2 linked regions of the Homo sapiens genome follow. The protein of the gene in region 1 interacts with the protein of each later gene in a pairwise test. Each region holds a gene or a part of one and is shown in the gene's direction. Other genes may lie near its edges.

Region 1 (3,500 bases):
TTATTACCAAATTAACAGAAAGTTACATGGTAAGTGTATGATCGAATGGGTTATTAATTTTCATGGGTCATGAGTGGGTTTTTAATTTTCCTCTATATTTGAAATTTTTGATATATAATTTCCGGAATAATAAGTAGCTCATTATTCCTGAAGCTTTCATTTATAATGTTACTTTGTGTACAGAAATATAATATTTCTAAATTTATATATGTTACTCACTACTAATTGTGCACTGTATTTTTAAATATTGGTTTTCACAGTGTTATGAAAATAATTTACATTTTTTTGGTTTCTTACATCACCATATGCACAAGAATGATCAGGTAGAATCCGTACTGTATCTATACATTTTTGGAAAGGGTTTGTATGAAAGATAGAAAAACCCTTTCAAAAATAATCCCTTGTTTTATCAATAGAATTAGAAATTAATAAACTGGATCATTAACTTGTATGATAATATTGTTATTTTATTTTTAAAATTTCCATTTATTTAAATGTTTAATAATTCTAAAATGTTTGTGTACCTTGATGACAATTCTTATGTCCTTACAATGTGTACTTTTATTGCAAATATAACATATTTTTACTAGGTAGTAACTCAGTGGTAAAAACTTTAGGGTACTGATTATAGCTCTAAATTCAAAAGCTGTTGCTCTTCAAAATTTTGTAGAATCAATTCAATGTGAATGTTTCAAATGTATTTAAGTATTCTGCTGTTTGTGTTCATAAGCTTTCTTTCTAAGATGTTAGACGTATGTTTCTTAAAGCTTGCATAGGCTACATTGATTAAAATTATGATTATAAGCTGCTTACTTTCATAGTTTTTTGTTTTTATTGTAGTCTAGTAGAGAGGACAATGGCAAGGAAAGGATAAAAGGGAGGGTGCTGAATTAACTAGGACATGGAAGCTATACTTAAAACACACGTTAAAAGAAGGCGTTTACTTTATATATGTATATACATATATAGGTATATGCACACTCACACCCACACATATATATGCATGCATTACTGTAACTCCAAATTTAATTTCCTGATAATAGTAAATCTGAATTAGAGCATCCTTATTAAATGCATAATATGATTATAAATGTTCCAATTACAAAATTAAATATTAAGCTTGAAGCATATATAGTTTTGTGAAGAGTCCAGCAGGCTTAAGCTGGCAATCAATGATAGTTATAAAAGTCCCTGCAGTTTTTGTTTTCTTTTGTTTTTCCTCTTTATTTAGCTCATTATTCTTCACACACTTCAAGAGAATCCCATAATGCTACAAGGAAAAAACAAATTCGCAGTTATCTTACGTGACTGTGGGCAAGAAAATGACTAAGGTGAAATCATCTGTCAGGCTCCGCAAAACCTAGAGGAGGGTCCAGCTTAGGTTGGCAGATGCCAGTAGAATTTTAAAGGCCTAGAATTTTACTCTTTGAAAATATAGCCTTAAATTTTTGCCAGAAATGACACCCAAATGAAAACTTATTTTTGCAAAGTGATAGTTATTTGCAAATGCAGTAGTGAAATATATTCAGAGTCTGTTGAGGTAGCTTGTCCACTGTCTGGACTGCACAGTAAACATTTGGATGGTTATTCTTAGCCACCCAAAAAACTAGCAAACTAAACTGAGGTGTATTCTTATTAGTTGAAAAGATTAAATGGGCATGCCTCTTATCAAATTAACAATGAATGCAAAGCAAATTTTGCAAATCATTGATTTATGTTGGTAGGTAACACAAACAGGAAACTATTCAGAAAAATAAATATGTGTTATCCGAAACGTAATGGGGACTAGCTTGGTTTTGTAGAACAACAGCAATTTAGCAAATAACTTTCACATTTAAAGAACCATATAAATAATGCTTTAGCACTCACTGCATAGGTTGGAATCAAGTGATGTCTTATTTAATATTATTCAAAGATAAAATGAGGTCTTAGTATGTGTAGTGCCTTTAACAATTAAAATTTTCTCACCTATAGGCTATGCTTACGTGGGAATTTCTTTTTCTTATTTGAAGTATAAACAGATCTGGATGCATTAAACTAGACAGAATGTAGATGTAAAAATGATTGAGACATATTAAAATGACAGGAAAGTCAGAGTTTAGGCATCCCTATTTGGAGGCTTGCTGCCACCCATGTTTCTAAGATTACAGTCTTGTGAATGTCCACACTCAAAATTCAGGGAATTATAAATAATTTTTCCTCCAGAACTATTCTTTGCTCCTGGAAGTAGAGCTGTATAATTTATTTTCTAGAATACCCAGATGTTTAGGAAAGTATAAGTAAGTGGCAACACTTTTGCATATTTAGCCATTAGTTGATAAATCATAAAAGATTTATCCTATTTCTTAATTATCATATTAGACAAGGAAATAGATGTCACACTCAAAGGGATAATTGAAGAGAGTTTGATGATGGCAATTTGATGGTGAGTAGAATGTAGGGAAACCACAGGAAATGATGAATCCCCCAGGGTCTGTCCACAGTTGGAATATATTAGCACCCCTAACCTGAGAGGGTAAATGCAGGGACCTCTTACCAGAATCCAATGAGCGCAACAGGACAGAAGCCTTCTGGAAAAGTTGGGACCTCAGATGGAGGATTGCAGCTCATGTCGAATATCATCCAGTAACCTGTCTTCATGTCCTCCAATCTTCTTTTGTTGCTTCCATTGATCAAACACTATCCGAAGCCAGAACCCCGGAGGGTTAGGTGGATGCAACCCTAAGAGTCAACCGAAGAAGAAATGAGGCAAGCATATCTGGGAGAACACAATAGTTAGGGCTAAACCCCCGCTGTGTCTCTTACTATTGTCACCTCTTGGCCACAAATTTAACTTTTCTCTACCATCGTTTCTGAAAAGGAAATTGAGTTAATATACACAAAGCAATTAGAACAATGTCTGGCTTAGTAAAGTGTCAGTTATTATTTTTATCATCTATCAATGAATGTACAATTATGTAATGCATATGCACCATCTGAAAATAATCTATTTTATGCTACCTGTTTGCATTTTATTACAAATACTGCTATAGGAAATGTAACTTGCCTAAGTAATTACTAAAGATTTAAAATAATCATTGTCCTTAGAATTGTAAACGGCATGAAATTTCCCTGAAATGTAAGGTGAATTCTAGCCAAGTTATGTAAGAGGCTCAAGTTGCCTTTCCCACCCTTAAGATTTCCATTCCACAGCCTCTTTTACTTGGACCTCTCCTAACTTCCTCTTCTCTTGGGTCTCCTGCTACTTCTCCATTGAAAAGCTGTTTTCAGGAAGAGTGCATATTGAGCAAAATAAAGAATAAAATGAGGACTCTTTTTTTTTTTTTGAGACCGAGTTTTGTTCTGTTGCCCAGGCTGGAGTGCAGTGGCGCAATCTTGACTCACTGCAACCTCTGCTGTCCGGGTTCAAGTGATTCTCCTGCCTCAGCCTCCTGAGTAGCTGGGACTACAGGCGCCCGCTAATTTTTATATTTTTAGTAGAGACGCGGTTTCACCATGTT
Region 2 (3,500 bases), on another chromosome or scaffold:
TCCATCACCTCTCACTTTAACTCCCCCAAACTCTTTAATTATGAGTGTGCTTTGCTCCAGGTGTTTGTGACAGTGAAATTGCTAAATGAGGACCATTTTAACCAAAGATTGGGTGATCAATAACACTCTATAGCAGTAGCTTGTTGGATCAATAGCATTCATTATTTCATGGTTAAGGTAAGTAGCCTCCTTTGCAAGTGGAGGTCATTAATCAGGGTTTCCTGGAGCTGTGTAAAAGAATATGTATGGTAGGTGGGGGTGTTCTGTTTTCTATTCTGTAAGTAGGGATGCTGACCAAGAATATATTTACCATTGTTGCAGTTGGTAGTATTGCATGTGAGATTCTCGAATAGCTAGCATAGTGTGCTTATGTGGGTATATTCACAGTTCTGCTAGTATCCTTAGGGACAACTAAAACACACAGCTTGGGAGGTCGATATGATACTATTGTACTTGAAGGTCTATCTCTTGAAAGAAACATCCATCTCGTAAAAGAGTCTACCTCTTAAAAGAAATATTGGGATTGTTCTGTGTGGCTCCACAGGACAGAACTCAGGGATAGAGAGTACAGAGTGTTAAATGTTGCTGCGGTTAAAAAATAAGATTCTAAAAATTAGGACTCTGTAAAAATGAAGTGAATTGTTTCACCATGTAATGCGTAATAACTTCTAGATCAGGTGGGGGGATTCAAACATGGGCTTGATGACCGCTTACTTAGTTGCTGTGGAGTTGAGAAGGTTGAACTGAAGGCTTCTGAGATCCCTTGTAACACTGAGATGCTGCGATTCTTTTCAGTCACAGTCTACTTCCCACCATTGTAATGTCTTAACTGGTAAGTAGCCTCAACTGCCCACTTGAATTCTTGTGGTTCCCACTGGCAGTCATCTTCAAAGATTCATTCTTTCTCTCAACTTTTAGAATGATATTCCCTTTTCTCTTATTTCGCAGAATTTGTTCAAAGGCCTCTTGGTATTTGCCAGCAAGGGTGCATAGATTACCCTTGGTCCCCTTCTCTACTCCCGTGGACATAGGTAACTGCCATTCTCAGATCTACAGCTGGCCAAGAGAATATGCAGAGCCCCTAGCCCAGTGCTCCCAGTGCTACTGGGAGGCTTTTATCTCATACAGCTATGCTGGACTGAGATAGGATCATCTAACCCTCACTGCTTGATTCTGACCCCATTCCAGGAGTGTGCCGTAAATGAAGGTGTAGAAAACACTGCAGTCTCCAGAATGTACTGTCTCCAGAATGCACTTCTCTGCCCATGTCAACTGGAATCTTTGTTCTTGAAGACTATACTTTCTAGGACTCAATACCCTATAACTGCTTCCTACCCTCAAACACAAATACACACAGAAAACACTAAGCTTCCCTATCCAAGTGTATTCTGGGAGTTAGAGCCACCAAATAGAAACTGAAAGATACTCAGGCCGGGCGTGGTGGCTCACGCCTGTAATCCCGGCACTTTGGGAGGCCGAGGCAGGTGGATCACAAGGTTAGGAGATCGAGACCATCCTGGCTAACATGGTGAAACCCCGACTCTACTAAAAATACAAAAAAATTAGCCTTGGCGTGGTGGTGGACGCCTGTAGTCCCAGCTACTCAGGAGGCTGAGGCGGGAGAATGGTGTGAACCCGGGAGGCGGAGCTTGCAGTGAGCCGAGATCACACCACTGCACTTGAGTGCACTCGAGCCTGGGCGACAGAGCGAGACTCTGTCTCAAAAAAAAAGAAAAAAGAAACTGAATGATGCTCAATGGGAAGAGAAGGATAGAACCACACCCTGCCTCAACCTGTAGCTGCCTGATTTTCTGACTGAAACTGGCCTTGCATTTCTGAACTGCAAGGTGACTGTAGAGAAAGGATGCAGGGGCTTGCTATCTACCTTCAGGGCAGGCTCAGCACTTCTAACGTGGGCCTCCATTTCATTGTCAAGTGTGGTTCTATCAGCCTTGTAGTTTGAGGAAATCTTGGCAATAGGCCATCTGTATTCTCTATTGCTACAGAAAAAAATCGCCCTAAAACTTAGTAGCTCTAAACAAAGAGACCAAGTCTGTGAGTATGTAAATATTCCCAGGGAAGAAACCAAAGTGCTGGAGAAGAAGATACAACTGAAGAGAAAAAAGTGTTCTTGAGTTGAAAAATTAAGTCTTAAGATTAAAAGCGAAAATTAATGAGAAGAGACTTCTACTGAGACGGAGATTTTAAAAAAATATTTTATTTTAGTTTTTCTTTTTTTCACATATGCTCAAGACTAAGGAAAGAAAAATCTTAAAAGGGGTTGAAGACTGGGTGCAGTGGCTCAGACATTCTTAGATATGCAGGCCCCAGAATCCATGTTCTTTAAAAATTTACTGTGAGAAGACGTTCCATCTACCTGAAGATGAATCACTGTTAGCTCTAAGAAAAGGGAAGTCTTGAAAGGATGGGTGGACTTCTCTGAGGCACAGCCCCCAGCTCAATAGCAGAGTCCTGAGGAAAATTCTGTCTCTGCAAAGTATACCTGATTGTACTAGTCACAGTATCGAACCTGTCAACCTGCGGAGGTTGCTGCCTTTCATGGCACTGTCTGAATGAAACTGAAAAAGAAATTCTTTTATTATATATTCTCATTACTTATAGGAATAATTTCAGAACTGATGTGAGATATTTCTCTGAATAACCTCTCCCTCAGTCTTGTTTACTACTAGATTCAGAAGTCTGATTACAAAGGGTTACCAGTGTGCCACCTCTACCCTGGAAAAAAACTGGAAAACGATAGAACAAAAATACCTTTGGGCAGTAGATCTAAGAGTGACTTTTTTCCACGTTTTTCTAAATTCTGAAACAACTTTTATTTTTGTTAAGTGCATTATTATTTACTAAGAAAAGTTTTTTAGAATGACGATGTAAGCCATAAACTTTAAGATATCTATTAATTAGATGCAAAAAACACCTCTTATTAAGCTACTTGGTTAATAAGCTCTTAAATGGGGAGAAACAAACCCAGATGGTAATTTATTAATACCAACTTTTGATTGTAGGTGATAAAGTAATTCTGTACCTCCTTATTATAATTGGAACAGGTATAAGTTACTCTTTCAGTTCTCACTTTACAGTCTTCTGTGGTTAGGAGTATGAAAGAATTAGCAAGCTCTCAGATCAGAGGGTGTGCTGTGCTTTTTTCCCACCCCCTGCTCCCCCTGGCAATTTTGGGAATTCAGAGGGGTTTATTTTGTTGAAACTAGAAGCTACTGTTTAGGAAGAAGGGAATTAATTTCAACAAAGAGTTTATAAAGATTCTGTATTATCTGTTGCTGCAGAAAAAATTGCCCTAAAACTTACTAGCTCTAGGACGGGTGCGGTGGCTCATGCCTGTAATCCTAGCACTTTGGGAGGCCTAGGCGGGTGGATCACCTAAGATCAGGAGTTTGAGACCAGCCTGACCAATGTGGTGAAACCTTGTTTCTACTAAAAATATGAAAATTAGCCAGGCGTGGTAGCACAGGCCTGTAATCCTA

What was found. The genes of interacting proteins can lie anywhere in the genome.
Region 2: the proteins of MEOX2 (region 1) and GPATCH2L interact in binary tests that used the Homo sapiens proteins (3 or more experiments, as listed by UniProt).

Annotation. Positions count from the first base shown.
Region 1 is NC_000007.14:15,676,684-15,680,183, reverse strand, and holds part of MEOX2 (homeobox protein MOX-2), read left to right. Parts: exon of another isoform or gene 1-1,270; intron 1,271-2,536; exon of another isoform or gene 2,537-2,721; intron 2,722-3,500. UniProt on the Homo sapiens protein: Mesodermal transcription factor that plays a key role in somitogenesis and somitogenesis and limb muscle differentiation. Required during limb development for normal appendicular muscle formation and for the normal regulation of myogenic genes.
Region 2 is NC_000014.9:76,158,422-76,161,921, forward strand, and holds part of GPATCH2L (G patch domain-containing protein 2-like), read left to right. Parts: intron 1-3,500.